Linked DNA regions of Homo sapiens: all the other regions are linked to region 3. The links come from fine-mapping of genetic effects on gene expression. A gene starts in region 3. Each other region holds a variant in brackets. All regions are shown on one strand. Distances are from middle to middle. Region 1 overlaps LDAH (lipid droplet associated hydrolase). Region 2 overlaps LDAH (lipid droplet associated hydrolase). Region 3 holds the start of GDF7 (growth differentiation factor 7).

Evidence for each region. PIP is the estimated chance that this variant, and not a neighbour inherited with it, causes the effect. A credible set is the group of variants that fine-mapping cannot tell apart.
Region 1: its variant is the best candidate, but not a certain one, in a credible set for the expression of GDF7 in atrial appendage (GTEx, PIP 0.86).
Region 2: its variant is the best candidate, but not a certain one, in a credible set for the expression of GDF7 in T cells (TOPMed, PIP 0.79).

What each region holds. Positions count from the first base shown.
Region 1 is chr2:20,686,905-20,697,555 of GRCh38, reverse strand. LDAH (lipid droplet associated hydrolase) reads left to right here. Exons shown (of 7, transcript NM_021925.4): 7 at 10,462-10,651. Among named protein-coding and RNA genes, the nearest start is that of GDF7, 25 kb to the right of the region's middle. RefSeq lists a silencer at 3,556-3,740. The variant T/C (reference allele first, on the strand shown) is at 4,136.
Region 2 is chr2:20,698,945-20,709,595 of GRCh38, reverse strand. It overlaps LDAH (lipid droplet associated hydrolase), which reads left to right. Exons shown (of 7, transcript NM_021925.4): 6 at 7,944-8,026. Among named protein-coding and RNA genes, the nearest start is that of GDF7, 37 kb to the right of the region's middle. The variant T/G (reference allele first, on the strand shown) is at 5,338.
Region 3 is chr2:20,662,168-20,672,818 of GRCh38, reverse strand. It overlaps GDF7 (growth differentiation factor 7), which reads right to left and starts at 5,675. Exons shown (of 2, transcript NM_182828.4): 1 at 5,189-5,675; 2 at 1-2,355. The coding sequence starts at 5,579. The coding sequence ends at 1,394. RefSeq lists enhancers at 1,679-2,624, 4,996-5,115, 6,102-6,932 and silencers at 5,596-5,745, 5,786-5,835, 5,906-6,015.

The DNA of each region.
Region 1 (10,651 bases), 25 kb before region 3:
AACCATGTGATATAGGGATTGACCAATCAGAATGTATGCCAGCTATGAACAGCCAGTTCAGGGGCACCAGTTCATATCAGTTAGCCCTAGGAATTTGGTGAGATTAACAAATGAGAGGGATTATCTTGAGGGCAAATGTGTGGTATAATACTAGAAAAGGATGAAATATGAGTTGGGGAGCCTGTTTACAAAGCTTTTATAAGAACTAAGGCATTGGGATTGAAGATGGAAAGATTTAGGAGATAGAATCAAAGGTACTGAGTACTAACAGGATATTGGGGAATGGAGATGGAGGAATCTAAGATTATTTCTTTGTATCTGGACTTGGTAATAAGACAGGGAATATGGGAAGAGAAGCAGCAGCAAGTTATGGGAGATGGCTGAACAAGTGGTTCATTTTGGTACTTGTATTTGAGATGCCAGTGGGACATGCAAGTGGATCCGTGTCTGGCAGGCCCTGGATGTATGGGTGTAAAGCTTAGAAAGATATTTGAGGCTGACTTTTGGTTGGGGAGTGATGAGGCTGTAGTTAAAGCCAAGAGCATGGGTAATAGCAGCCTAAAGAAGTATACAGAATAAGGAGAGAAGACTTCTAATGATTGATCATTAGGGAACCCAGCTTAAGGGTTGGGAGGAAGACGAGGAGCCACTGAATGAATAAGATGGGAGGGGAGGTAAGAAGGGTGGGAAGGAGAACCAGGATGAAATAAACCAAGGGAAGAGAATCAACTGTGCGTTTTCGCCACCCCAATCCCAGTTTGTCTGGAAACCTCTGGAGTATTCTCTGTTTCATGAGGCACCTGGTGTGTCAGAGGCAAATAAGAGGTCAGCACTCCCTTGTTCTGTCACTGTTCTAAGCCATAAGGGATGCATGTCTCATTCATTGAAAAGTGAACTCATGTTTGGTTTATAAACTTGAAGTTTTCATTTCAAACCCACTTAGGGGGGGAATTCTAAACTGCCATGACCACGTTTGGCCCAGGCTTACGGAAACAGCTGGTGTGTGCTACTGCCAGACTGAATCTGAGCATCACTATCAGTAAGTAGGAATCTGAAATTGCTCCAAAGAGAACACATGAAGTGCAGCTTTCAGATGAAGTTAGGCAGTGGTAGGGGGGCTGCCTGTAAGGTGGTGCTGCCCCTGCCCCCAGAGGGCCAGGCCAGGGCTACAGTGTGGCTTGGGAAAGGGGCAAGTGTCCTCAAGAACAGGAACTCCTCTGCTATTGCTCTCTCCCCATCCCTCTTAGCCTGCCTTAGCCCAAAGGTGTGTGTTGCCTTTGGGAGCAAACCTTGTGCAGTTGTTTGCAGATTGGGGCATGCAAATCCTTCTGACATGCACATGTCCTGCCTGCTGCAGCATAGGAAATGCTCCCTGGACCAGCTCACCAGGCCTGCCTTTCCGCCAAGCCTCGGTATTCTGAAACGGATTGTGTTAGTTCTGCCTGTTTAATTTAAAGCCTGTCCAGAATGTCATAATCATCCTGAAAATAGATAGGTTTGTTTTTATCTCAATATTGTGACCTTGAAAGCTTTATTTGGGCAATTGTGTGAGCACACTCTGGGGTTCTGCAGTGGAGCCTGGTGACTGAGGGGAGGCAAACGTGCTGGAGAGCTGGGCTCCCAGAGTCTCAGCCAAGCTTCAAACACCAAATCCACCCTTGTTCATGACCCTGCTTAAGTTACCGGACCTCACTGTGCCTCCTTTATTCATCAATAAAATGGTTAATAATAGTATGTAGCCTCATACAGCTATTCCAAAAATATGCTATAATTCATACCTTGTAATTCAGACCTTATAAGAGTATCTCCGCCGGGCACGGTGGCTCATGCCTGTAATCCCAGCACTTTGGGAGGCCGAGGCGGGTGGATCATGAGGTCAGGAGTTCGAGACCAGCCTGGCCAACATGGTGAAACCCCGTCTCCACTAAAAATACAAATATTAGCCGGGCATGGTGGTGCATGCCTATAGTCCCAGCTACTCGGGAGGCTGAGGCAGAATTGCTTGAACCCAGGAGGGGGAGGTTGCAGTGAGCCAAGATCATGCTACTGCACTCCAGCCTGGGCAACAGAGCGAGACTCCGTCTCAAAAAAAAAAAAAAAAGAAAGAGTGTCTGGAATGCACTAAGCATTCAATAAATGTTTTTATTACTATTACAAAGTTAGTTATAGCCTAGTTATGCTTCTAAGCACTTTAAAAAGACTATTTGCCTAACTGTTCCTCTTCTCACATCCCCTTTTCAGATACTTTCATTGTGTTAATGAAAGGTATTAGTGATGCTGAGTATGTGGCCAAGAGACCCCGGAATGCCCAATGCCATTCTAAACAACAGCCACCACTCCCCATAAGATGCCTCAAGGAGCTGTTGTATAGGAACCATAATGAGGGGAAAACACAATAGTACTTGATTTTTACCAAGGCTTGGGCCCATTATTCTAGTCCAGAGAAGTCTGATGAACTGGACTTAGCCCTTCTCTCAGTTAGTTGAGTAAAACCATTCCAGTACATTTGCCCCCTTCTTGGGGCACAGATCCAGGGAAGGACAGAAACACAGAAGGAGACTGGCGCTCAGGGCCTCTTACTTTGCCAGAGGGCCTCGCCAGAGGAAAGCAGAGGCCCTGGGTTAGCATCTCAGTGCAGTCTCACGTGAGAAAGAGACAAGCCAGTCACTTGATGGCCTCGTGGCTTGTATGTGGGAGGGAGAGGATCCTGGCCCTTTACATGTTAGCCACACGGAAAGGAGAGTGCTGCTCTGCACACCGCTGTATACACAGATGGTTGTTCCAGCTACTGGAGAGTGAGCCACACAGTGCCCCATAGGACCTACTCCTCCTTTGGCGCTCCCATTCCCACCGCTCCCCTCTGTGCCTGCAGAGAGAAGCAGGGTTCACGGGCGGGAAGCATTTGTGTTTTCACCTCCATCCTCAGCCACTTTTTAAAAATCTTTGGAGATTTCAGTTCTCATTTTCTCAAGAATGGTAATTGAGCCAGTTAGGAATAAACGGAAGAGAGGAAACAAGGTAACTGGAAAAACTGAAGTCCCTAAACCATCTCCCTTTCTTTAGCAATTCTGCAAGTCCCTAAAAACAGAGGCTCAGAAAGACTGCAGTGAAATGTTGACACTTTGCAGCTGCCTGTGTCCCCAACAGGGATAAGATTTTTTAAGTAACTGAAAGGAGATGCTTATATCACAGAATCGGTTTCCTTTAACATTGCAAGATTGGGGCTTACATGTCTTTGACTCTGAGGGGAGGGGAGAAGTGGAAGCCTGCTGCTGTCATCCAGACTGTCTGGACTCTCCCCAGAAATGGGCATGCATTGGAGGACCTAACAGTTTATATCCCGAGCCCGGGAAAGCTTCAAGGGGATGAAAACAGGAGATAAAGGCAGGGTAGGGGCCCTAGCTGGGAAGTAGGGGGCCTGTATGTGTAGGTACTAATTTGATCCCTTGGTATTCAACCGACTGCTTTATATCTGACCTTTTGCTTTTTTCACAAACAATGAAACAAGCAAAAAACCTGCTCTAGTGCAAATTATTTCAAAGAAGGAAAGAAAACCTGGAGAAAGCAGGAATGACATATTTTTCTTAGACCTCTGGAAGAAAGGCCAAGAAGATAGATCTCTCTCAGAATCTGTGTCACTCCTCTTTGGTCACTGTCTCTAGTGCTGGCTTCCTGGTTGCCCTGCCATGCAGCGTAAGCTGCCAGGGAGCTACAGCTGTTGATGAAGTGCTAACAGAAAGCCTTGCATTGCTCAGAAAAGCGGTGGGCATTACCTTCACTGCTGCAAGAACCCACAGGCTCACCCTGTGAGCTCACCAGGAAGAAAAGTAACTCCCAGAATGTCGGTGCCTTTCTTCATTTGGAAGATGCTCAACCAAGGATAGCCAAAGGGCACTATAGCTTAGGCTCCAGGTCTCCTTTATGAGGAAAAGTAGGTTTTATTATAAAAGTGGAAGTATAGAATCCACACCAAGAGCTGACTGTTAGTGGCGGCTTGAGGATAGGGATGTGCTTCACTGTTTATTTGGTTGGCGACTTATCTTCTACCCCACCTGTCTTTCTCTACAGTCATGTCTGGGGAATATGACATGTACATTTTTTAGATAATGAGTAAGTATATGGTAAAACAACTTTG[T/C]TTTATATTTTAAAAAATGTTTAATACTTATACATTTTCTGAGCCTATGTCAAAAACAACTTATCAGAATAGAATATATTTTCTCAAAGGCTAATGTAAGGTCATGTGGATTCTTTTTCCTTGAGCAGGGCACAGCTCCCACCCACCCAGCCCACCATTGCCCAGTCTGTGTCGAGGAGCTCCCTTTGTCCTCACCTGTAAAGCAGCAGCCTTTAAGAGTGCCCACCATGTGGAAAGCACTTGATACACTTTGTTTTCCAGTCCTCAGCACTAGCCCACAGGTAACTAGTTCTGTCTTACTTTACAGATGAGTAAACAGGCACAGGGAAGCTAAGTAACTGGTCCAGGCTCACAGCACCAATAAATGGCAGAACCAAGATTCCAGTCCAGGTGGATATGGCTCAGGGACCTGTACAGTCTTAACACTGTACTCACTGCACTACGCTCTTCTTGGCTGCATAAGGAGCTTGAGTAGTTTCACAAATTACTTTAGAATAATATAAATACAATTATTTTACCACACTGTGATATAAAGACATTATGAGAAGCCCTTTCACTCTCAGCATGACACCCCCAGAAATGCCGTTTACCACCCTGCTCAGGCCTGCACTATATCACAAAACAGGCACCCCACAAATTGACTACCCAAAGTAGTCTGTGCCAAAGGCTCATCAAGCTGGATTTCTCGTTGGAAACATTTCAAGTTGTATTGATGAGATATCGTTTGTACCAAACTTGACTTCGTGGTGAATTATGATTTAAAGAGCTTCTAAAATTCAGTTTATCCATAAGGTTAACACCAACAACAAATATATATATGCAAAAATATATAGAGATGCAAAACTTTCATTTTATTAGCCCTTTTATTCCTGTAATGCCTGTAGTCCTACTGTCCTATTGAATAGACAGATAATTCAGATAGAGATTTTTATGTGTGGCTTTTAAAATTGTTATTATTTTAAGATGTTGCTATGTCATTGAAAGTGAGTTTTGTTATTAGCTAAATCATAAGATGCTTCTAATATTTCTTTGTTCTTACTATAAATCCTCTATTAGTAATGCATAAAAGCATGCAACTCCAAATGTATACTAAAACAAAGCTTTGTTCATGTTCACTCCCTCAGGGCAGAATTTGGGTTTTCCTGCTTTGGGGTCCCGTAGGGCTTTGTCCATACCTCTGTCTGCCTGTTGTATTTAAGAGCCAGTTTATATAGGTCTGTTCTCTCGCCTAGTCTGTGAGCTGTTCCAGGGCAGAGACCATCTTACACACTTCTGAATGTCAGCCACTTAGCCTAGTACCAGATATGGGATGGAATCAGAGTCATTTTTGGTGGAACTCATTTTAATCTATCAGCTTCAGCAATTCACTGTCCAACAGTGCTGTTTGTAGACCCCCCAAAAAGTGGGGAAAAAAAAACACACAGAAGAAAAGACAGATGTGGGGACAAGCTGCAGCAACCTGCAGGGATATTTTAGGAGGGCCCTGTCCCCTTAGGTGCACATTAAACAGTTAAAGGGAAGTTCATCTATAAGCCCAGAGACCATAGTAACCATAAATCCACTTTCCTGCAGAAAACACAGGAGGAAAAGCCAAAGCATGGTTCTGGAGAATCAAAATCTAGACTGAAAAAAAGTTAAATTTTGTGCTTAATAGAAAACAATGGGTTACTTAACATGACAATTTGGAAACAGAAAAATTTCTATCTCAATAATGTATACTTTTTATCAACTCTCATGAGTTCCAAAACAAGTGCTAAGGATAAATAAACTACAGGAAATAATTTATTTTCTTCTAAACCTTTGAATGTAAACATCCTGCTGATTGCCTGCGATTCTTTGTTAACAATTCCAGTACTTTCATGGCAGTTATCACCCCCATGACACACAGTGCCTCAGAAGAGCTACATAGACTGTGAGAAGGCTTTCAGTAAAGGTAGTTGGGAAGGCTGGGTGCTGTGGCTCACGCCTGTAATTTCAGTACTTTGTGAGGGTGAGGTGGGTGGATCACTTGAGCCCAGGAGTTGGAGACCAGCCTGGGAAACATAGGGAGACTTCGTCTCTACAAAAAAAAATTAAAAATTAGCTGAGCATGGTGGCATGCGCTTGTGATTCCAGCTACCCTGGAAGCTGATGTGCGAAGGTCACTTGAGCTCGGGAGGTCAAGGCTCCAGTAAGCTGAGATCACACCACTGCACTCTAGACTGGGCCCAGAGTAAGACTGTCTCAGAATAAAAAAGTAAATAAAAATAAAGGTGGCTGTGTTAGCTCCTGTTGACAACTCTCACACTCTATTAGTTTTCATATCCAGTTTAAGACCTGCCAGTTGTCAGGTTTTATGTTTTTATAACGGGTCTATTTACTGGAATTGTAAGTAGTAGCAAAAGGTACAAGTTAGGAATGTTGTCTGTGGATTTGTAGCCCAGCTCTTCAATGCAAAATTGCTTGAAATAAGCAGGTTAATCTTGCTAAGCCTCAATTTCCTTTTCTGTAAAATATAGATACAATACTTTCCTTAGAGTATTGTTGTGAGGATACAACGAGATAATACATAGAAAGTGCTTACTTAGCACAGAGCCTGGCCATTGCTCTCGGCCCATTGGTTCATCATGGTGCATTGCGATTCATTTTTGCATACCGATAAATAAAGAGTATGCACTGTTAACCACTATGTTTTTGGTGTCCAGTTGTTTCTCTTTCTTTCTACTTCACCCCTCCTCCCCCATCCCCCGCCAGTGCCACCACACACTCCATACTTTCTCATTTTCCTGTTCAGGGCTGCAGGTGCGGAGTTCTCCGGTCAGATCTATTGCCTGTGATTTATAATTTATAGGGAAAAGGAAGTATCTCAAGCCAGTGTATGTAAAGGCATTAGATAACCATGTGTTTTACTTGTAAGCCAAGACTTTCATAGGAAGCCCTTTAGAGAATATATAGCCTGAAAAAGAACTTGTAAAAGAAAACAAAATTTTACAAAACGTGAGCCCACCCCCATCATCAGTTAGGCGTTTAACCAAATGGGGCCCACTTCAAACGTTTAAGGATTGTAGAGAATCGAGAAATAAAATCAGATAAGCATACGGGAGGTCTAGACTCCTCACTGTTCTGCTGTCTTGAACACTGACACCACTCTTTGTTGAGGTTCCTAGCACATGCCTTGGACAGTGTGTGCCCCATAATTACTTGGACATATTTGTCTCTTGATACCCTGAGGTGGGTGTCGGGTCCCTTAATCCATGTTGATCACCCCTGCTCAAATCACTGCCTTAACTGCATGTACGGGGATGGTGTTTGCTCAGTGCTGAGGGCTTATCAAGCTGGACTTCTCATTGGAAACATTTCAAGTTGTAATTGCATCACAGAAAAGTAAATGGTACGTTCTTCATGGAAACAGTCTTTGAAATGTCAGACAGAAAGCAACAGCGGTGCGTACAGTGACGCTTTTCTTGTTGAGGAAACTGTATTAGATGAGGTCTTTTCTGTCTGGCTTTCCTTTGAGCTGACTGCCATTATCATAGGACTTCACACTGTAGCTTGTACTGGAGTGAGGGTCCTAGAGTAGCTTTCTCAGGGTCCAGTGATCTTGAGGCGAGAGCATGCCCTGCAGCAGAGGAACAGACCTGACAGGTATGAACCCAAGTCTGACTTTCCAGATTTCTCAGCAGTGTTCCCTGCTCTGAGGAAGTGCTGAGTAACTGCATAGCGACTGTTCCCTATCCTATTCCCTGAATACAATCGAAAAGATTGCTGGTGGTAAATATAGGGAGTAGCTTAGAGAGAGCCTAATGTTATCAGCACTATTGGTAGATAATTAATACCTGCAAATAGTTTGTACTCTTGACAGTATTTCAAGGCAAAGCTATAGCAGGGTAGTTGCTGAGAGATCCGGGGAAACGTGTTTTTCTACTAGTGGAAAGAATAGTCTCCCACTGGTTGTGAGGTTGCAGCATTTTAGAGCTACAGAAAGAGCTGAGACCAGGAGGAAGAACTAGGCAACTGCTAGGCTCTCATATTCTCTAGGAAGCAAAAGAAGTTCTTACTCTGCTAAGAACCATGGCAAAATGAATTCTGGCTTTAGGGGCTTTGGAATGCCCAGAAATGGTTGGAGTGAGGAAAAGTAGGAGAATGCAAAGAATGAATTAAGTGATAAATCTGTAAGTTGCAGGTCCTCTGCAGCGTGCAAAACTGGAACCCCAGGTAACAACCAAGAAAACCTCCATGAAGCTGGAATACTATGCAGTCATAAAAAAGGATGAGTTCATGTCCTTTGCAGGGACATGGATGAAGCTGGAAACCATCATTCTCAGCAAACTGACACAGGAACAGAAAACCAGACATGGCATGTTCTCACTCATAAGTGGGAGTTGAACAATGAGAACACATGGACACAGGGAGGGGAACATCACACACCGGGGCCTGTTAGGGGATGGGGGGTAGGGGAGGGATAGCATTAGGAGAAATACCTAATGTAGATGACGGGTTGATGGGTACAGCAAACCACCGTGGCACGTGTATACCTATGTAACAAACCTGCACACTCTGCACATGTCCCAGAATTTGAAGTATAATTAAAAAAAAAAAAAAAAAAAAAAAAAGGAAACCTCCATGAAGCAATTCAGAGTAAGTCTGCCACTTGAGGTTTACTTGTTCATAATTTACTCTCTGGAGTACTATGTTAAATTTTTTCCTCTATAAAGTGTTTTTAACTAACCATCTAAATATTGGTTAAGGCATCATGTTATTGTAATGAAGGCCATTGTTTTCGTAAGATCAGTCTCATCTGTCCCATATTCAGGTCATGGATTTAATAATTGATACACTCAAACTATCCAGTGAGCAATAACGCCTGCTTCCCTGCACTCTCCTCCCCCAGCACTTGATCACCTCCAATCCTTCTTCTCGTTGTGGCCAGAGTGGTTTTCCTGACATAGGGACCTCAGCATGTCACTTCACTGTGCAGTCTTTTTTGCCTTGTGGACTTCGGGATAAAGCGCAACCTCCTTGGCATGCATAGAAGATGCTGTCCATGACCTCATCCCTCTCTGCCTCTCCAGTCTTATCTCCCACCACCCTATATTCCAGCCATGTGGAATTCCAGTTCCCCACACATGCCATGCTCTTTCAAGCTTTGGTTTGCTTGGTCTTCTCCCCACAGTGTGCTGCCCCAGCTTGAAGACTCAACTGAGGCATCAACTCTGGGGAATCTTTCCTGCCTACTACTTCTGACCAGCTGCACCTCACCTGAGCTCTCAAATTGTCTTGTATACATGGGGTCCCCTTCTCCCCTCCCCCCAAGACTGTCTTATCTCTATTTTCCAGGTTCCTAATACAAAGTAGGTGCTCCATTTGTATTTGATGAACAAAGGAATGAGTAAGCAATTCAGTGTCTGAATGAAGGAGCACATTTGGTATATTAGGGAAGCTGCAAGTGACTACAGCTGGCCAACTAGGGGCTGGAGCTAGGCATAGCTCTGTCTTTCAGTGATAACAGAGGTCAAAGGATCCTTAAGATTTAGTTCTTGGTTTTTGTAGAAATTGCCACTATCTGTTCTTCTGAATATAAGATGTTGCTTTGTTGCCTTTATTTTTAGAACTAACAGAACTAGAACATAGCAGTTTTTCAGTGAAACACAGCAGCCTAGAGCAATATACATATATATCACATGCAGGTTTAGGTAGATATCCATTCAGGGTCTTAGTAATGCCACAGAGGAGGCTCTGTCTCCATTCAGCTGCTTGCTGTCAATTGAAGTATGATTATTGCACTTCCCCACTGAATCAACATACAGGCTGCATAGAGCCTTTTCTTAGAAAGGTCATAAACTCTCTCAGGATTCTGATCACATTTCATCAGCTACATTGGAAAGCCTGAGTCTATCTGATCTGTGTTTGTATTCATTCAACAAATACATCCCATATGACTACCATGTGGCTATTTGGAAACAACTAAGTTTATTAACTGGTCACTAGTCATTCAGTGACTATGTCTCAATAACTGTCTTCGTCATCCTCACCGGCCTTCATTCCAGTGTCCATCCCAACCTTAGTACACAAAACTTTCCTGGTAAGTCGTTTCAGTGAATTATGAGTGATCTATCACACAAGAGTCTCCCAGCATGGGGATCTTCCCACCAAATTCTTCTAAGTGCACTCCTGTACATCGTGAAGCCTTGCTGCCTTGAGAGAGCCACACTCTGGAGAGAGCTTAGGGACTAGCTCCCAGGGTCAGGCGTAGGTGCTGTCCTCAGAGCACTGCCGGCTGCTGGTGTCATATCTGTGTCAGGAAGGGAACGTGTTTTCTAATAAAAGGTTTTTGTCTTGTCTTTCAGCTTACATTTTATTATGGTACTATAGATCCTTGGTGTCCAAAAGAGTACTATGAAGACATTAAGAAGGATTTTCCAGAAGGAGACATTCGACTCTGTGAGAAAAACATACCTCATGCTTTCATCACCCATTTTAACCAGGAAATGGCAGACATGATTGCTGACTCCCTAAAGGATGACTTGTCCAAAATGT
Region 2 (10,651 bases), 37 kb before region 3:
CAAACAGTTTTCCAAAGTTCCTGTACCAGTTTATAATTCTAACAACAAGACATGAGGGTTACAGTTTCTCCACATCTTGTCAACACTGGTTATTGTTTGTCTTTTTTTATTATAGCCATCCTAGTGAAGTAGTATCTCATTGTGGTTTTGATTATATTTCCTTGATGACTAATGATGTTGAACATCTTTTCACATGCTTATTGGCCATTTGTACAGATTGAATATCCCTTATCTGAAATGCTTGAGATGAGAAGTGTTTAGGATATGGGATTTTTTTTGGATTTGGAAATATTTGCATATACATAATGAGATATTTTGGGAATGGGACCCAAGTCTAAACACAAAATTTACTTATATTTTATATACACCTCATACACATAGCCTGAAGGTAACTGCACAATATTTTTAATTTTGTGCATGAAGAAAGTTTTGACTGCAACCCATTACATATAGTCATGTGTGAAATTTTCCACTTGTAGCATCATGTTGGCACTCAAAAAGCTGAATTTTGGAAGATTTCAGATTTTATGTTTTTACATTAGGGATACTCAACCTGTACATCTTCTTAAGAAGATATTTAGAAATGTCTGTTGCAATCCTTTGCCCATTTTCAATCAGATTGTCTTTATTATTGATTTGTAAGAGTTCTTTATATATTATGGCTAGAGATCTTTATCAGACATATGATCTTTTCCCATTCTTTAGATTGTCTTTTTACTTTCTTGATGGTGTCCTTTAAAGCATAAAAGTGTTAGTTTTGATGAAGTCCAATTTATTTATTTATTTTTGTCACTTGTGCTTTTGATGTCATAGTTACAAACCATTCTGTAATCTAAGGTCACAAAGATGTATTTCTCTTTCCTACTGAGAGTTTTATAGTTTTAGTTGTTACATTTAGGGCTATGATCCATTCTGAATTTATTTCCTATGTCATGTGAGGTAGTGATCCAGCTTCCTTCTTTTGCACATGTATATCCACTTGTCCAAGTTCCAGTTGTTGAATGTTTATTAATTTTATTATCTTTGTCATTTCTGCATCAGTTTTGACTGATCAGTTTTTCTCCTCATTTGGGTTGTATTTTCTTGCATTGCATGCATGATAATTTTTTATTGGATAGCTTACATTCTGAATTTTACCTTGTCAGATGCTGGATATTTTTGTACTTCTATAAATATTATTGAGCTGTGTTATGGGACACAGTTTTGTTATTTGGAGACGGTTTGATACTTTCTGGTCTTGCTTCTAGGCTGTTAGTTGGTACCAGAATGGCATTTGGTTTAGGGCTAATTTTACTCCACCACCAAGGCAAAAACCTCTCTGAGTTCTCTAGTTACCAGTCCCCAACCTTTTTGGAACCAGGGACCGGTTTTGTGGAAGACACTTTTTCCCTGGACCAGGCTGGGGGAATGGTTTGGGGATGATTCAAGCACATTACATTTATTGTGTACTTTATTTCCATTATTATTAAATGTTAATATATAATGAAATAATTATACAACTCACCATAATGTAGAAAAGTGGGAGGGAGCCCTGAGCTTCTTTTCCTGCAGCTAGACAATCCCATCTGAGGGTGATGGGGGACAGTGACAGATGATCAGGCATTAGATTATCATAAGGAGCACGCAACCTAGATCCCTTGCATGCTCAGTTCACAATATGGTTTGCACTCCTCTGAGAATCTAATGCTGCCAGTGATCTGACAGGCGGTGGAGCTTAGGCAGTAATGCAAGCAATGGGGAATGCCTGTAAATACAGATAAAGCTTCACTTGCTTGCCTGCTGCTCACCTCCTGCCGTGTGACACAGTACTGGTGCTGCTCTAGTGGATGCATTGTTGGTTGTGACGTTCTCTGGTGGACTGGTAGAAACAGTGACTATTCTCAATTCAGGGATTATTCCCTCTAATTCTTTCAGATGATTCCTTCACCCAGCTTCTCAAAATTTCTCATACAATTGTGCTGATCTGCACCTAGCTGAAATTCAGGGGGTCCCCTCTGCAGATCTCTGGAGCGTTCTCTCACTCACTACAGCTTTCTCCTTCTACAACTCTGCCCTACCAAAAACCACTGCGGTAGCCTCCCCAAACTATCACCTCTATCTCCTTGATTACAAATGCATTGTTTTAATCAGGTGTGTTAACATGGCAAGCATGGAGACAACTGCCTTTGAAAGAAGAGCTACTTAGAATTCTTGAAAGGAGGGGGCATTGCACACTAGGCAGGGCCTCATGGGGAAGCACCCAGTTGGGGAAGGAGGCAGAAGGAGCACAGGAGAGCATGGCCCAGAGCCTTCATTGTGGTCCCCATGGGAAGGAAGGGATGAGGCAGTTTAGGCAGCTGAGCAGGTTTAGTTAGGATTGGCTGGTATGAAAAATTTTGGTGGGCTTTGAGCTATAGGAGTAGTTCCTAGATGTCTTGTGTCCAGCCCTGAAATAATTCCCAGCAGGATTTAGAGTGATTTAGAGTATTTGGCTTGTTGTGTGAGAGTTTTCTAAGGGAGGTGGTTGGTGGGTATGGCCTTTGGATTGGTTGTTTGCTCAATATGAAAGAAATGTTCACCGTGGAATCATTTGCTATCTCTAAGAATTTAGCTAGTCATGGGAGGGGCAGCCTCTCCCCGACAAGCAAGGCCTCCAAGATGTCAAAGCATCATAAAATGAAGACAATAAAAAACAATTAATGCACTTATCAACTGAGGGAGATTACCAAGCTCTGCTTGTACTTCTCCTTCTTGCACTGTAGCCTGAAAACTTTTCAAATGATAAGCTGAGACAATCATAAGACTCCTCTCATTCGTTTCTCTTTTCTCAGGGATTGCTGTCTTTTTGTTGCCCAATATCCAGTGTCTTGAAAACTTTTTTCTTCATGTATTTTATCTTTTTTTTTTTTTTTAGTTGTTTCAGGATTTTAGGTAGGAGGGTAAATCCAGTCCCTCTTACTCCATCTTGTTCAGAAGTAGAACTATGGAAAATCATTTCCATTTGAAATTAAAATTCAGTTGAGATTTTTGGGAACCAATAACAGTTTAAACAGGTTTGGCTTCTATATCGATAATTCAGCAGTCTTTATTAACAGATTGGAGTGTTAGAGCAAGGTAGCGAAAAGACAGAGCATCTAAGCCAAGACAAAGGATGGGTGGGAAGACTTCAAGTAGACAGAATGCCATGAACAAAATGGCTGAGGATGCAAATTTTATGTGTTTAGAGGATAAGTAGCTCACATTCACTGGAAAGCATGAGTCTTTAAATGAAGCCAAGCTTCAACATAGGTTGGGATCAGATTTTGTAGAGAAGGCTAATGGGAGTTATAAAGAAAATGAGAATTTCTCTTTCAATAAAATCTGTCTTTTCCTCATGGTGTTCCCCAAACTTTTTTTTCTCCTAAGCCCCCACTAATATTCATTTTTCATTCCTTCACCTTCTCCTAATATCTAATCCATTTCTTAGCTCTGTAAGGTCGGCCTTATTTGTAGCTCTAGAAAGAACTTCACTGCTCAGTAAGGTAGACATTAGCCATATGTGGCTATTTAAATGTAAATGAATTAAATAAAATTGAAATTTCAGTTCCTTATTGCCCTGGCCACATTTCAGGTGTTCAAGAGGCACATCTAGCCAAGGGCCTTTGTATTGGTTGGATAGCACAGGGAACATTTCCACCATCACAGAAAGTTATATTGCATAGCACTACTCTAGAATGTGCTCAGAGGCAAAATTTTAAATTTCATATGCGGTATAACTATGTGAAAACTAAGACTTAACAATAAAATTTTAAAGATTTAAATGAAGTCATCAAAATAGTAATATTGATTATTTTTCACTAAGTTCTTGCTAATCATTTCTTCTACTCATATAATTTCTGCATTTTATATACAGAGCACATGTTTATAGTAGGAAAAATTATGTCTTTGATCATTTATTCTTTTTCATACTATAAGCACTTTAAGTCTCATTCTCTCCCCCACTAGACAATATAATAGTATTCTAACTAGTCTCTTAGAAAATAATACAAATTGAAAAAGAGAAAGGCTATAGAAGAAAAATGACAGAGGATTAGTCTAAGAGAGCCAATACCCTACTAGTAGGAGTTCCAGAAAGAGGGGATGGAGAAAACAGGGGAAGAAATTACCAAAGAAATAATAAAAGAAAATTTTCCAGAAAGAAAGTTGGTAAGTCCAAACAGTGAATGGGCCCACTGGATTTCCAGTCTAATTAAGGAATAGAAGACTTGTATTAGGGCATATTCCTATGAAACTTCAGGATTCTAGAGCTAAGACAGCTGAGTTTGAGGATAAGGAGATGGGATAGGGGCAGGACAAAGGGAAGTAGTCACATTCCAAGAAACTAAAATTGAAATCATAAACCTTGGATGCTGGAAGATAATAAACTTGAGGGTAAGCCCCTTTCAGCTTAAAATTCTATATACAGCCAAACTATGTGATTCATGTGGGAAAAGAAACAAAAATTAGACATGTAAACATCTATAAAAATTCCTGTGTATCTTTTTATTAGTTACTGGAAAATGTGCTTCAGTAAAGTAAGGGAATAAACCAAGAATGAGAAAGTCATGAACAGAATCCATAAAACAGGGAATCCAGTCCAGAGAAGTGGCAAAGGGAAGTCCAAGGATGACAGCTATGCAGCAGGCCTGGAGAGCAACCCGTCCAAGATTGGATCAAAAGAATGGAAGGCTCTGTGGGGGGAGGGACAGAATAAATGAATTATTGGATGTGTTTGTACATTTGGGAATAAAATCTGATGCATTTTTGAAGAAAGAATTTTCATTGTCTACTCATGAGAAAAGAAAATCAAGTAAAGGCAACAAATAATTCTAGGAAAGACAAAATGATGTACAAAGAAAGAAACTATAACCTATTTGAAAGGGAGGCAGGGAAGTGAGAGGAGAAGAAAGGACAGGCAGATCACCTGGGATTCCATCAACCAGAGATAACGTGTTATTATTTTATTGTTTATCTTTTCAAATAAATCTGTACCATACACATAATGTATCTTTACAATAGTGGGATCATACTGTACTATTTCATGGTTTGTTTTTTGTCAGTTACTATTATTTTTAAATATGTATTTGACATTATATATTCTGCAGGATAATTTTTAATAGGTTATAGAATAATTAATTTAGTGAATAGACCATAATGTATTAATCAAATCTCTGTTGCTTTAATTTAGTTGGTCCTTATAAATTCCCTGAAATATAGTAAAACAAAGACAGTTCTGATTTTGGAACCGGGACTTAGAGTCTTATAGTCCAGCTTCTTAGTATATAACTGCGACTAAATATCCTGTTCTGATTTAGGAGATTAGGCCAAGAAAATGCAGAA[T/G]ATTTACTCCTATATGTACTCATGCTAATATCACAGACAGACAAGAATGATTAAAGTGCTACTTTTTAGGATTATATCATGGCTATATTTAAGGGAGCATCTCCTACCCTATTCTCTGTCTAGAGTGCTGCTAACCCAAGTATCTGCATGGTCCATTTTCTCATTTCATTCAAGTTCTTCTCTGTTCACACATCCCCTTATCAGGGAGGTCTTTTCAGTGAATTTTACATAAAATAGGCCACCTCTGTCACTGCACAGACTTATCTCCTAAGCTGATTTTATTTTTCTCCATAGCACTTTCTCACCATCTATCATCCCAACACTAAAATATAAGCTCAAGAATAGTGTTTCTGTCTTGTTTGTTGCTCCATCTCCAGCGCCTAAAATAAGGCCTGGCATAAAGTAAGTAGGTGCTCAGTCATCTTTGAATGAATAAACAAATGAATGAGTTAATTAACTGGGACTTAGAAAACAATAGGAACAACCCAAGAAGGCAGTGAAGGGAAATTCTAAGTCGACAGTGGTCCAGGTTAGAGCAGAAGGTCTCAGGGTCCTGGAAAGGAGGTCTCCAGGAAGAATTGACTCAGAAAAATATTGAGTAGAGTTAAGAGGGAAAAAAAGGTAACTGTAACGAAAACAAATGTTGGAGGACAGAGAATGGAAGTGTAAGAGTGGAAGTGTGGTTCTAGATACCACTTGGCTCAGCAGTGAACAATATTCAGAAGTAAAGGTGTAAGTATATTATTTAAGTAAGAATAGAATAATTCAAAATAAGATATAAACATGTTGAGAAGATGGCAGGAAGGAATGGTAGGGCTGTAAAAGGGAGCTAAATCCTCATCTTTCATAGCAACTCAGCAAGGGTAATCAATAAGTTATCAAGAAATGACAAGATGATCGTAAGTGTTTAGAGGTTTGAAGATAACTGGTGGAAGGACAGCTAAAAGAGTTCAGAGAGGCTTCCTCTAGGAAACGGGTCTAGAAATGGGAAATGATGGAAAAGAAAACTATGGTTTGGCACTACAACCATTTCTGTGATATTTGATATGAAACTATATATGTGTATGTGTGTTACCTTGATAAAACTTTAAACAAGGAAAGCAGAGGCAAAATGTAAAAATTAATAATCTGGGAGCTGGGTGCGGTGGCTCATGCCTGTAATCCCAGCACTTTGAGAGGCCAAGGCAGGCGGATCTTCTGAGGTCAGGAGTTCAAGACCAGCCTGACCAACATGGTGAAACCCTGTCTCTACTAAAAATACAAAATTAGCGGAGTGTGGTGGCGCATGCCTGTAATCCCAGCTACTCTGGAGGCTGAGGCAGGAGAATTGCTTGAACCTGGGAGGTGGCCGTGAGCCACGATCGTGCCATTGCCCTCCAGCCCGGGCAACAAAGAGCGAAACTCCATCTCAAAAAATAATAATAATCTGGAACTAAAATTCCAGATGGTTGAAGCAACAGGGATGGAGGCAGGATGGGAGGAAGGCATGGGGAAAGTGCAAGTATGCTAAGGTCATGCCTTGTTTAGATGAGTAATTCCAGACAGCAAGAGAAAATAAAAAGTAAGTTTGCAGTTTTTAGGTAAGGCTAACCACTAGATAAATAAAAATGGAATTTATACTTTCAGATTGTTAATGAAAAGAAATTTGTTAAATCCTGGGTGGGGAGGAAAATTCATCATTCACACTAAAGATAAGAGGCAGAAATAACAAGAAAGCGTAGGGTATATAAAGCAAGATGACTGGCGTCAGACCAAATAGCTTTGATCTCAATATATGTGAATATGTTTAGTCCTTCTATTTAAGAAACAGAGACTTTCAAACTGCATTTTTAAAGAAGTCCACTTACATGATTTCAAGAGACATACTTGAAACAAAATGACAAAAGATTGAAAATGAAGGGAAGGACAGATGCTGGCAAAAAAGAAAGCAAGATAAGAATAATAATACCAGCCAAAATGGAATTCAGGGTACAAAGCATTGAATGAAAATTTTCTTACCAGTACAAGAAAGCCACATAAACTCATGTTATCTCTGGCGTTCTTCCTCTTTCCTAGGTATTTGACATCTTGAAAGTGAGCATCACTTTGCTTATTTTGCAGCCAGTGTAATGGGACTAACCCTATTGAAAACTCCTGGAGAACTTTAAACGTATTTTTAAAGATAAATAATCCTTTTAGTTGTTTCCTTTAAAAAAAAAAAAGCCAGTATATTTTCATGTTAGTAACTGTTTGCATTTTCTTGGTATACATGATTTATTGGTAACAATTTGTACTTCTAAGCCTTAAATCGAAATAGCACATATTGGTCTGGTAAAATTGCACACATCATCTGCTGTGGTATCTGACATTGGGCTGTGGCACTGTTAAACTTTTGCTATGGAGAAGCCAGATGAGGTTGGAAGAAGGTTCTTTTAAATGAAATGCTCTTGTTTCCAGAGACTGTGTGCATGTTGCCTGACTCACATTCCTCTGTTGGCCTCACCAGTATCTCTCATCAGATAGCACGTGCCAAAAGAAAGGAGGAACATGAATTTACTAAAATTAATTTGAAATTTGTGTTTGTTCTATATATTCTAAATGTTTGACTTTTTATTTTTTAAATGTAGCTAATGCTGCCTACCTTGGGGGCCAAGAAATGATGGAGGTGGTGAAGAGAGATGACGAAACCATAAAGGAGCATTTATGTAAGGTAATCACTTTAGTGCTGCAAGGGGATAGATAATAAGTAGATGGGCAGAGATACGAGGGCAAAGGACTAGAACTAGTTAGAATCTGTAAGACTTTAAGGGTTGGTAGAATGACATAGAGTTCTACTTCCAGTTAAAATTGAAATTATCCCTGAAAGTTGTGTAGAGAGTAGTAAAGCTAATTGCATAATAACTTATTTTTTTATCACCTGTTTTTGTTGAATTAATTTTAGAATCAATACTTTTCTATTTTGTCAATGCATTTTAGCCTCTCTAGGCCTTCTACTGAGAAAACTCCATAATATTTATAGAATAAATAATGTTGGAATATAAATGAAACAGTGGAAAATACATTATATGTTATATGATCTCATGACTAGTGAGCCTTTCTTATTCTCTAATGTGTTAGAGTAGGAATGTCCTGCTCTGACCCTAAGACCAGTTTTGTGAAATATTCAACATTTGGGAGTTATGCTGCAAATACTAGAATCTTGCACACACACATCTGGAAGCACCAATCTCTGAAACTATAAGAGTAGGGTTTAGTATATGTCTAAGGTCACCCTAGAATTTGGATGACTGTGGTACTCCTGTGGCATCATTTGTCTGGCTGTCCGTTCTGAGTAGGACAGAACTGTACTAATATTATAGCCACTAGCCACATGTGGTTATTTGTGGCTAGCCTTAATTGAGTTGTGCCATAAGTGTAAAACACACATTGGATTTCAAAAGTTTAGTTCCCCCAGAAGCAAAGTATTTCATTAATTTTTATATTGATTACCTGTTGAAATACTACCTTAGATATAGTGGATTAAGTAAAACATATTATTAAAAGTAATTTCACCCATTCCTTTATAATTTTTTAAACATTGTAACTAGGAAATTCTAAAATTGCATATGTACCTTGCTTTATGCTTCTGTTGGACAGCATTAGTCTTAAACTTTACAATTGGTGCTGAACTATGATACCTGCTGAAATGATCCCTGCTGAGTGGCAAACTCTCATAGGACTCAGGAGCAATCCACAAGTGAAATACGAGATAACCCACTGGACTTAGAATGTCTTTATAAACCTTGATACATTTGACTTAAACTTTTCTACATTGTTAATTCTTAATTCCATAACCTCCCAGTACAATTATCTTAAAACGAGAAGTGTATATGTTCTTAAAATTTTTTTTTTAGAATATTGAAAATATTCACCCAGAGAGGACTTTTGAAAATGCCAGTGTTGTTTTGTCTCATGGCCATAGTGGTCATCATATTTCTGAAATAGCAGTTGGCTAGAGATTGAAATTTGGAAACCAGAAGGAAGCCCTCACTAGCCGAAGGGAGAGTGCTGGGGCCTCAGGAGGGCCCCCTCTCCAGGGCTTTCAGCTACTTCCAGTCACTGAGCGATGTGAAAATACAAGAAAAACAGTATTTTATTTTCCATTTAAACTGTAAGTGAATCTGTTTCAAAAATGCATTTAAGTTCTTCCAGGTTGGGAGTTCATAAAAACAGCTCAACTCTCAGTTAATAATAAGACTGGCAGATGCTCACTTCCAAAATTCACACTTGCTGAACAACTAGACCCATCATGTGTCAGAGTCTGCTTTACCACCTGTGGAAGCCAGCTGCTGTAAAATACTCATCATTTCTGGATTCAGCTTGTGTGTTGTGCTCAGAAAAAGGTCAAAGAAAGGTGCTAACTTATTCCTGTCCCAAGTGAAATCCATATGCAAGTGTAATCATTCCCAGATAGAGGGCTGTTCATGGTAATTATGTCAGGACTGTAAGTTTACTGAAATTTTATGGGGAAATACGGGGGTGTAATGGTAAATGGTAGACATTTCAAGGTTAGTATTAACACACAGTCACAGGAATAAACTTTTTCAACTCCAGGCAATAGTTTTGTTTTTGAGATAGCATTAAATATACTTCTAGAATATGGGGAAACAAAGCATTGTTTCATTTAATCATGCAAAACTACCTTGCAGTTAATTCATTATCCTTTCTACCAGCAAAATTCAAGCTCTCCACTAGAATAATACAATTACAGCTCCTAAGTGAAACTAGGTACAGAGAGACAGGAAGTTTATTGCAACTTTTTGTTTCTGTAATAAAAAGAGGAAACATGCTGTAATTTAATATTGGTAGAAGTTGAATCAACATATGTCCCAGTCTGCTTGAGAAAATAAGGAAACTTAAAAGTGCACATAGTTCTAGGAAGATAGTGGGCATTGCTTCCTGCCTTCCAAACACCCCCGATAACTGGTCAAACTAAAACCAATGCCCGGGATTAGAAATATTCCTATTTAGGTATCTTAATCGAGGATACTCTTTCCCATTTCCACCCAAACAAAGGCGTTCAGAAACTTCAGAACTATCCAGGACTGTCCAGTGTGAATAGTCATCAAGCCACACATTTTGTTGAAAAATCATTTCCTGTATCTCAGCTATTCAACTAAAAATAGTTCTGAAAAATATATCTTTGTGCCATCCAGCCAGAATGCCACAGGAAAGTTAGTCTAAAAATAAGCTTTCTACTGTATCATGCAGACAGCATTCTACTTCTTTCTCCTCCCCAAGAGAACTATCATACCATAATCTACAGGCTTTGGTTCTAAATCCAAATTTTCTACCA
Region 3 (10,651 bases):
AATCCTCCCATCAATAAGACCCTTTGGGGCCAAATAAGGGAACTGGGGGATATTCCACCTCTGCTCCCCCACACCAAGGCCCTGCCCTTCCAAGGGCACAGCAGCCAAGCCAGGGAGCCGATGAGGGGAAGGGGCAGACCTTCCCCCTGCTCTAAAGGTCTGGGTTGTGAGTTGAAGTCTGACAAAAGCATTTTTGAGTGGCTTCACTTCCCGTTACTATCACACTGCCAACAACTACAGCAACAACACAGCGAAAGCAGGTAAAAAGCGGAGGCCGACTTACTTGATAACTAGCACAAGCCCGAGTCGGCCCCGGGAGCTTCCGCCTACCTGGCCGGCAAGCCGGAGTCCTCGGCTGGAGTGGGCCCCAGGACACCTCCTTGCCTTTCAAGCCCTGAGAGCCTCTTCCCTGGCTTCTTAGGAAAACCTCCTGGCAGGTCTCTAGGAAAAGCAGTAGCTCCCCTCCCCCAGCCCCACCTTCCCCATTCCGGGCCATTGCACTAACTTCCTCCTGAGCCACCCGAGGCATGGCTCCCACCTCCCCCTGACCAACTGGGGAGCTTCCGAACCTGGCAGATCCTATCCCACCCCAATATCCTGTTAGATCAGACTCAGCCGTTTAAAAGAAAAATATCCTTTCCACTTTCCATAACATTTCCTATTGGAATTGATTAAAAAAAAAAAAAAAAAAGGCGGGGGGGGGGGGGGGGGTGGCGGTACCGACCTTTGCAGAAATCTGGGAAGCTCCACAACAGCTACTTTCAGACAAAACTTCCCTTTCAAAAATGAAGCAGGGGCACGTTAAATTTTAAAAGTTAAAAAAAGAAAGATGCTTTTTGCAGCAGTTCCAGGGTAAACGGCCCCATGCAACACAAACCCTCGGGAAGGGCATTACAGCCTTGCAGTGGGTCACGGAGTGCACCACGCGGCGCTCAGCCCCCCAGGGAAGCGATGCCCCACATCGGGCCAGAAACAAAAGGGGGTGAGATAAAGCATGCTCGAGTACCCCTTTGGTTCTCCCATTCTGGAACTTCGAATTTCCTAACCCGTTGTTGCTACCTGATTTTCGTGCCTCTAACTGCAACATCAGCACAAACACCTTCCTCTCCCTAAATGGGGGCAGTGGGCGCCATGGTTATCTGTTTGCAAAATACACAGGGCTTTGACATTCGGTACCGGCAGGTCATCTCTTCCCAAGGCTTTCACATGCTGTCCCCGGTAAATGTGTGCGTGACTGCACGAGTGTGTGTGAGTGTGAACGTGTGCTCTCCCTCCTCTGAGAGGGTGCTGGGTCACATCGGACATGCACCCACGCTCGGTGACAGGGTGGCCCGCTGCTGCTCATCAGCTGGGGATCCTCGGCCGCGTGGCTGCCCCCTCCCCGGCCCTCGCGCTACCTGCAGCCGCAGGCCTCCACCACCATGTCCTCGTATTGCTTGTAGACAACGTTGTTGGCGGCGTCGATGTAGAGGATGCTGATGGGGCTGAGGCGCGCTGGCACACAGCAGGAGGCCGGCGCCGCGTCTGGTGCCATGGAGTTGAGCAGCGTCTGAATGATGGCATGGTTGGTGGGCTCGAGGTGCGAACGCAAAGGGAAGTCGCAAAGGCCCTCGCAGTGGTACGCCTCGTAGTCCAGCGGCGCGATGATCCAGTCGTCCCAGCCGAGCTCCTTGAAGTCCACGTGCAACGGCTTGCGGCTGCAGCGGCTCCGGCCCCTGCGCCCGTGGCCCCGGCCCGCGCCCCCGCCGCTGCCCTGCGCTGTCCGCGTCCCGGCCAACGCCGTCCTCCTCCGTCTGCGGCCGCCAATGACTGCCCTTGGCGACGCGGTGCCGGTTCCTGGGTCGGGCAGCGGCTCTGAGGCCAGAGCGGCCCCGAGCGCGCGGGCCTGGGCGCGGATCTCCCGGAATAAGCTCTCTTTCCTCTGCGTGCGGGAGGAGACGACTAGCACCGCGCGCTCCTCTGCCGCAGAGCCCCCTCCGCCCGGCCAGCCGAAGCCCAGCCGCCGCAGTGCCAACGGGCTCGGCACCGGGCCTGCCACTGCGCGCAGCAAGAGGCAGAACGCGCGGGGGGGGCGCGGTTCACGACGGTGGCGCCTCATGGCGTCCGCCACGTCGAACGCCTCCCAGCGCTGACCGACTAGGGGCTCAGCTGCCCGCGAGTACAGCAGGCGTGGCGCTCGGGCGGCGCCCGGGCACGTGGACAGCAGCAGCAACGGCGGAGAAGTCCAGCTGCCTGGGCCCGACTCTGGAGATCCCCGGCGCAGCACGCGCAGCTCGGCACCCACCACCTCGTCTGCGTCGTTAAGGCTGGACACGTCGAACAGGAAGCTCTGGCCTGTTTCGGCTGCCGATTCGTCTGCGGGGGACCGGCAGGGACAGAGAGAAAGAGCTGTGTAAGAGCAAATCCTGCACACTGTCAGCGCGGGGCCTCCTAACAGCAAATGGCCCAGCTGTCTTCGATGTGGGAGCCAGGCCTGTTGGAGCCAGCGCCCGACTCCGCGTCTCTGCCCCAGCCTGAACGCTGCCAGCCTGGCCCAGAGCAGCGGACGTCTTCGCCCGGGATATCCGAACCGAGCTTTGGTTTAGCAAGCCAAAAGTCCCATCAGGCCAACAACCCATGGTCACTGCATATCCCTGAGCCGCGGGACCAGGAGCGCACCCCTACACCCAAGACCAGGACTGCAGGCTGCTATAGTTCCGCGGCCTGACCCAGAGCCGCGGGCCAGAATCCGAGATCAGAGTCCGGGGCTGGGTTGAAAAGAAGTCGTGCACCCCCTCCTGAGGTCCTGGGCCTTAAGGAGACTTATCGTTATTGCCCTGCTGATCCCCCAAGAGAGCCGAAAGTCCTGGCTGTGCGAAAACGGAAAATTCTGGTCTCCTGAAAACTCTTCTGCTACCTCTGTTCCCCCAACCCAGCCTGGACATCCCTGCTGGCCACGGTCTCCCATGCAGGCTGGGGCTCGGCGATTCGTCCGGGAGAATTCGTCTGCACGGCCGCAGAGACCTTCTAGTCCAACTTCGCTCTGCCGAAGGGGAACTGAGGCCCAGGTAGGGGCCAGGCTCGCCCAAGGTCTCAGGTCTTGCAACAATGGGCGCTGCTGCTCGCGATCGCAACCCCAAATGCACCTCCTCCCGGTGCTCTCGCGGCCTCCGAAGGAGGGGGAAAGGCAGTAAAGGAACACAAGGAACCTCCCGGAGGGGTGCGGGGCATCCCGGAATGACCTTGCTGCAGTGAGGGCAGCGTCCCAAACGAGGTCTCGCTTCCAGGAGCCGCCTGTCTGTCCCTTCGCGGGCTCATTCTTCCCTCTGTAGTGACTTATCTCGGGCTTAGGGGTTTTATTTCCAGTGTGGACACTCTTTTTTCTTTTTCCTTTTTGGGCTCAGAAAAAAAAAAAGTTTAAAATTCCACCACGCAGCAGATAAGGAGCTCCCTTTGAAGGGGGTCATATGGTTTCGTTTTGCCCCTAAACTCGGAGAGACTATGCAGAATCCCCCCACCACTGGGGATTTGCTCACCAGCCACGAAGGTCAGGCCCTCATGCCTGAGGTCCCGGTTCTATCCCTATCAATGGCTTCTGGGGACCTCAAGCAGCCCTGTTCCAAGTTGAGACTCAGGGTGGAGAGGGAGGCCGGAGAGGCACACTGGGGCTGCACGAGGAGCACTTTCTCTGAGATTCCCTGCAGATCCTCTGCCTCTCCCTGCTCACCAGCCCTGCCACTCTGTTTCCCCCAAGAGGGAGGAGGGAGAGGAGGCCTCTCAGGCTCAGCCAGCCAAGCTGAGCTCCCCAGAAAGGATTTATCTCCTGTCTGAGACCATGGTAGAACTAGCTCAACCTTAAGAAGACTCTGGTGCCTGTGCCCACTTAGAGCCCAGCACACCCCCCTTCTCCTGCAGCCTGGGACCCTTCAGTCCCTGTCCCTGTGCACCAGAACTAGGGCGTCCTATAAGTATCCCAGCATCCAGCCCAGGGGCCATGTCAGGCCGTCAGAGAAGGCTTGATAGTTCTAACCGAACCACAGGGCCATTTGGGGATTGGGTACCAAGATTTCCAGGTACCAAAAATAAGGCAGTCTGTGCTAGGCACTGGGCATGTGCTGGCAGGGATGGATGACCTGGTCACTTGCAAGGCCTCTGCCTGCCTTCCCAGGCTAGGACCTGAGGTATGCTGACTGTCAGTGGCTCCCAAGCAGGGCTGCCTCAGCCCCACCCGCTCACTTCCCAGCCCTATTCGCCTTTCTTTCCCTCCTGCCCTCCATGCTGGGTCTCTGGCTGGATAGAATTAAGGCCGAAATTACTTGCATTTCCGCCTGAAATTAGGTAAATTTTCTCTATCTGTCTGCTTTAATGATTTCAATGGAGATTAATAAAATCCAGATGACATACAGCAGCCACACCACAGCCTCACCTACATCTTACCTTTGGAAGGCCCAGGGCAGAACAAGGTGGGGTGCTTAGTCTAAGAGAGGCCTGCATTCCTGCAGGGTCCCCAGCAGGCCTCTCCTCCCCACACCACCAGGATCCTTGACCTCTGGCTCTCCCAGGGGCCCAGCACCAGACACAGGCACCCATAGCTGCACATGTCACACACACACAAACCACCACCACCCAGACCAACCTGCTGAGCAGGGCACTCCTCATACCTGGTTATGCCACCAGCCTCTCCAGGGCCATTTACTTTAGTCTGATACCTGCCTCTGCCCTAGTTTTCCCTGGGCTTCCCCCAATTTGTGTGGCCCGCAGGAGACTGGGAGCTGCAGAAATTGCTGCAAGGAAGGAGCCATCACCCTCACCACCGTGCAGTCCCTCTCGCCGTGACTCCCGGGAACACAGCTCTTGCCCTCCTTTCTTCTCTGAGGGCTCCGAGGCCACTCCAGACCATTCCCCAAGAAGCGAATCTTGGCCTCCGCCTGCCTCCTCGAGGGGACCAGCCGGCCTGCAAGGCCAGGGAGACCTGGGAGAGGGACCAGTCAGCCCTCTGGGACTGGGCCCCGGGAGCTGCCGCGACTCTCGCCACAGTCCAGGTGCAGCGGGCTGGAGAGTGTTGGCCTCGGCGAAGTTTCTTTCTATCACCTGAGGGTGGGCCGCATGGGGCCGCGGCTCCAAATGTAACGGAGCTGCGGCACGGCTCCGGGGCTGGTCTCAGCCCAGGACCTGACGGGATGGGCGGGCACAGAAGAGGCGTAAGTACCTTGGGTCGCCTGGTCTGTGAAGCCGGTGATCGTGTCCGCGCGACCATGGCCCGAGGCGGAGACAGCGGCTGCCCCGGCCGGAGCCCTCCCGGCCAGGCTCCGGTAAAGCGACATCATGAAGTGGTGCGGCACCACCGAGCCGTTCCTGAAGCCGGAGCCCGCGGCGCGGCGCGCGGCGCGGGCCCGGGGAACCGCGGCGGCCGGGACAGCCGCGGCGCCCGCAGCCTGGGCAAGAGTCCGCCCGCCGCCGCCGCCGCCGCCGCCGCCCCCTGGGCTCCGGACCGGCCCAGCCCCCGCCGCTCGCAGCACGGCGGCCGCTTCCAGCCCGTCGCGGGGGCGGCAGGCGCTCAGCAGCCAAAGGCACAGCGCGGCGGCGGCGCTCAGGTCCATGGGCTCCGTGGGCCGGGCGGGCGGGCGGCGCGGGCTCCGTGGCTCCGGGAAGTCCCCCGGCGCCTTTTGAACATAGTGTTTAATAATGGGGGAAGTGTGCGCGGCCAGCCCGCGGCCCCCCCTCCTGGCCCACCCCACCCCCGCCCAACGCCCGGAGCAGCGCCCCCTGCTGAAAGCTCCGGCGGCCGCTATGCGCCCCCCACCCCGGCCTAGAGTGGAGACCAGGGCCGGAGCCGCCTCCTCCCACCGCAGCGCTACGCCCCCACCCTCGCCAAGCGACTGCCACTGGCCCCAGCCTCCCGACACGCCTCCCCGCGGCAGTGCGACACCCCCTCCATCCGCCCAAGACCAACGCGCCCTCCGTGGTTCCAGGCTCGGGGCACCGCGCGCACCCGCCCAGCTTCCTCCCCACTCCCCCGCAGAGAAACACCCGCCCCCTCCCTGCCCTGGTTCCCAATGCCGGGAACGGGGCGGCAGAGTTGGGGCCGCGGAAGGGCTCGCCCTCCAGACCGCTTCGCGCCGCGGCCGGGTGGCCGCGCAGAGAGAGGCCACAGGATGCTCCCGGCGGCCTCAAAGTCGCGTTCCGGATCGCGGGTCGGCGGTTCCCCACTCAGCCACAGACCCCAAAGGATTGCAGCGGGCGGCCAGAGCAGGGGAGGGGGCCGGTAGGGGAGGAAGGGAGGGCGAGGAGCTGAAAGGGCAGGCCTGTAAGAGACCTTTGGACGCGGACCGCCCGTCGTAAAAGCAAGGTTTGGGCGCGGAAGTTGCGCTTCAGCGGGAGCCAAGCTCTAGAAAGAGCTCGAAATGAGGACGGCAGCCCCGGGTGATGGGGGATCTCGCGCGGGAGTGCGCTAAGAGTTTGGCTGTGCGTCCAACTGGCGACCTTCCACCCGCCTTCTGGGCGAGGGCAGCGGCTAACGAAAACCAGCTACCGGCTGTGTGCGTGAGCGGCCAGGAGCCGGGAGAGCGGACGGCGCAGAGCCCCGGGATGGCGCCTCCGAGCTTCTTACCCCGCCGCGGTGATGGCGCGGGTCCCGAGGTGGATGGAGGGGACGCCCGGCAGCGGCGAAGCCCTGGGGCGCACTCGCGCGGGCCGCAGAGCAGTTTGCTCCGCGGCTGGGACAGGTTGCGGAGGCCAAGTCTCAGGGGAACGCGCAGGAGAGGGGGGTTATCGGCTCTGCTCCGCCGGCAGCCTGGACATCCCCCTAGATCGGAAACTTTCAGCTGATCGAAGGCCTGGGCCAAACGAACTGCCGAAGAAGGGCAGGCGGGTCCTTTTCCTTTAAAATTGCATTTTCTGCAGAACTCAAAATCTAGACTGGGTCGGCACGTCGTGATCACCTTGAGCGGGTGATCAGCTTCAAAGCGAGGTCGCCCGCCGAATCCAAAGCCGCCTAGGTCCCGACGCCTGCCTGGCTGCGCTGCGCTGGGACCCACAGAGAGGCCCGGCCCAGGCTCCCCAGTTCCCCTGCTCCACTGCTTCGTCCCAAACGAACTCCTCAGCCATTGCCCTCTCGGCCACCGCGGAGACGCGGCGCCTGCTCACCTTGGGGCATTGAGCCGCATAACACTCGAGAATGTTTGCGGGTGGGAGAGAGAGGCCTAGTGAGGTTCAGTCCTCGCAGACCCCAAGGCCGATCTATGCCAAGGAGAAAGGCCTGACATTACCGGGAAGGGCGGACCCCTGGACCAGGGTCAGCGCTGCCGGCGCTGAGGGACTTCTCCTAGCAGGAGCCTGGGGAATCTGGGATGATCGAGCTGGGATAGTCCACCCTGCTTCTAGGACTGGGATTGGAGAGTCGGTGACAAACACCGCCGCCCCCACTCCGCCAGCCCCCCGGTCTCTCCCTGACGCGGATGCTGGGTCCTACTGTGTTACTTGGCTTCCTTTCCCCCTGCAGCCATGCGCCCGCAGTGTTTGGGTGTTTTACAAATCAACTCGGCTAAGATTTGTGCAAACACGCGGGGAGTCCTGGGTGACAGCAAGTCGCTTGCCTTGTCTTGGCTTCAGTTTACCCGGCTGTGTAGAGCAGAGAGCGGAAGGGTCCTAGCACATTCTTGGCACAGCCAGTGACAAACGTTTGTTGATTACATGACACCCCTGCCACGTTGGGGCTTAGGAATGAGGGATGCACCCTTGCTGTCATTGTGGGAGCAGGCCACTTAGCCTCTTGGAGACCGAATTTCCTAATCTATAAAATGAGCGGATTCTCACCTCATCCTGTGTGTGGCTGGCATAACAGGCTGGCACAGAGGAGGTGATGTAGTCTTGCCCCCAACCACCAGTGTGTTCCCAGTGCCAGGGGTGATCATGGCAGAGAGAGAAGCAGCTTCTACGCACCTGGAAGGCTTTGGAGGACACACATGGGGTGGGCTAATGCTGCTGGAGCCACTGTCCACTCGCTGTATGTGCTCCAACTGAGACTTCACTTCTCCCACCTGTGCTTCTTGGTCTGTATGGTGAGGGCACAGTCATTTATTTATTTATCCGTCCCTCTATTCATTCCTTCTTTATGTAAATACTCATTGCCAGGTAGCCTTCGGTGCATTGTGGATTGAGCAACGCACAGGGCGAGCACATGGAGCTTTAGGATGGACACAGGAGACAGCCAACAGGAAGCGCATAAATGCACAGTGTGCTATCCAGTGGTTCCGAGTAAAGTGATGGGCTGGGGGGCTCTGTGATCAGCAGAGGACACATTGGAGCCGAGCCCAGGAGGAGGCAGAGAGGATGCATGGGTCATGCCTGTCTCCCTCGCTCCCTGTAAATAATGATAGTGCCCATTCGTTGTCCCTTGAATGTCAGGCACCTTGCCTGCTGCTCCACACACCTCATGCCATTTCATTCTCACAACTACTCTATCCTGTGAGATGGGTATTCTTCCCATTCTATAGAAAAGGAAAGTTGAGCTAAAGAATTCAACACCTTGCGCAGAGTCACCTGGAGAGTGGCAGAGCATGGAGTCATCAACTATCCTTGCTCAACCCTTGGCTTGGGGCTGGGGGATGGGAATGTGAGGGGCTTTGTTCTGCCGCCCTGCTCCCCAGACCCCAGTGGAGAGGCAGAGTATGCCTGCCTTTCCTCTCTGGCTTTCTAGAAAATTCTTGGCAAAGAAAGGACCTCTCTAGTCCAGGTGAAGACTATGAAAGTGTTACCCAGGGGACTCTTGCCTGCCACTGCTCGCAACTGGAAGCGGAAAACACTTGCCATGGAAAATAGCCTGTCATACCAGCAGCAGGACCTGCCCATGACCCAGGTCTCCAGGTGCCCTGCCCAGTTGGGACTTCCTCTTAGGTGATGTGGGGATCCTTAGGTCGATTGGCTGGGCAGGAGAGAGCTAGTTTGCACAGCCCGGAGCCCTTGAAGCTGTGCACCACATGCTAACTGCACTAAGAGCCTTGAGAATGAAAACCTTCCTCTGTGTTGCCCCAGCCATCACTGGGGAGCAGATGAGGCCCAGAGGCAGATGTCAGGAGCAGAGATCAGAGAAGGTTGGGAGAAAACTGGGGCCTGAAAGCCCTAACTTTAGTTCTTCATCCATCTGATCACCCCCAAACCCCAGACCTCCAGACTCCAGCTGAGTCCTCCTCAGAGAGAGAAGGTGAGATTGCCTCCAACGGAGGGAGGAGGGGAAAGCAGCCTGCTTGGGGCGATGTTTGACAACTGGGATGAAGAGGGGCAGTTCCCACATTCCCGCCCCAGACCCTTCCTTGCAGAGCACTTTGCTGCTCTTCCACCCCTTGCAGAAGCTGTTTGTTTTCTCTGAACACCAAGTCCCTGATTCAGTCATAGAATCCAAGGATCTGAAAACAACTTTTGGGGTTATTATTTAAGCCAACTTGCCATGCATGCCTGAATCATAACAAATTGCTTCCTGGGCTGCACTTGCATACCTGCAGAGGTGGGGAACTCCCTATCCAAGGCAGCCTCTGATACCTCTGAATGGGAGGAAGTTCTTTTTTGTTCTTTTTTTTTTTTTTTTTTTTTTTAGGAGACAGGGTCTCCCTCTGTGGCCCAGGCTGCAGTGCAGTGGCAGAATCATGGCTCACGGTAACTCAAATTCCTGGGCTCAAGTGATCCTCCTACCTCAGCCTCCCTAGTAGCTGGGTCTACAAGCACAAGCCACCACACCCAGCTAATTTTTAAAAATATTTTGTAGACACAGGGTCTTGCTGTGTTGCCAAGGGTGGCCTCAAAGCATCCTCTTGAGCCCAGGCTCAGTCTCCCAAAGTTCTGGGATTACGGTTGTGCTTTCCTGTACCCGGTTGTGAGGAAGTCCTCTCTACTACTACTAGGAGAGCCACATCTCTCGAAGGTACCTTTGCTGTGGGGAGTTTGCATGTCATCTGGGAACCTACAACACTAGATTGATACTACTTAGGGAGTTAGTCTTGGATCCCGCCAGCTACAGCCATTTTGAAGCGACTGTCAGGTACGGGAACTTGGGCAAGCCCCAGCTGTAGCCTACTCAGCCTTGCCCAGGGTCTCCTGCCATACCCAGACACCTGGCCCCATGTCTGATGACAAGACAACTAAAAGATCCCTTAGAGGCAACCTACTCTACATTGTCCACATGCAGAAGCCAAGTCCCCAACAAGGGGATGTGATCAGTAGCCTGTCATTTGGCATCATAGCCATCTTCTATCCTGGGTCCCCCTGTGATCAGGGGCCTTTGTTCTCCATTGCAGCCCAGAGGGTCTTGCCTCACCTCTGCTTAGGGCACCCTGTGGGTGCAACATAATGAGGGTCAGCCTTTGCCCTCCCCTCTCCTCTGTTGGGGATGCTGGGTCCCTGCAGCCATGCACTAACTTGGAACATAAAACTGATAATCCTGAGAGTCAAGAGACCTCAATTCAAATCGTGCCTCTAAACTTGGGCTGCAAGTTCCTCACCCTTCCTGGCTTTAGACCCCAGATGTGCAGTGAGGCTGACAATCAAACGTCCACAGGGTTTGCAGTGAAAGACGGGAAGAGTGTGAGATGGGTCCACTGCCTGGGACCCAGCCAGGAGCCTGTCCTCTGTCTGGACCCACCGTAGCCTCTGGGCCTTTTGACTCAGAGCTGGAGAAAGG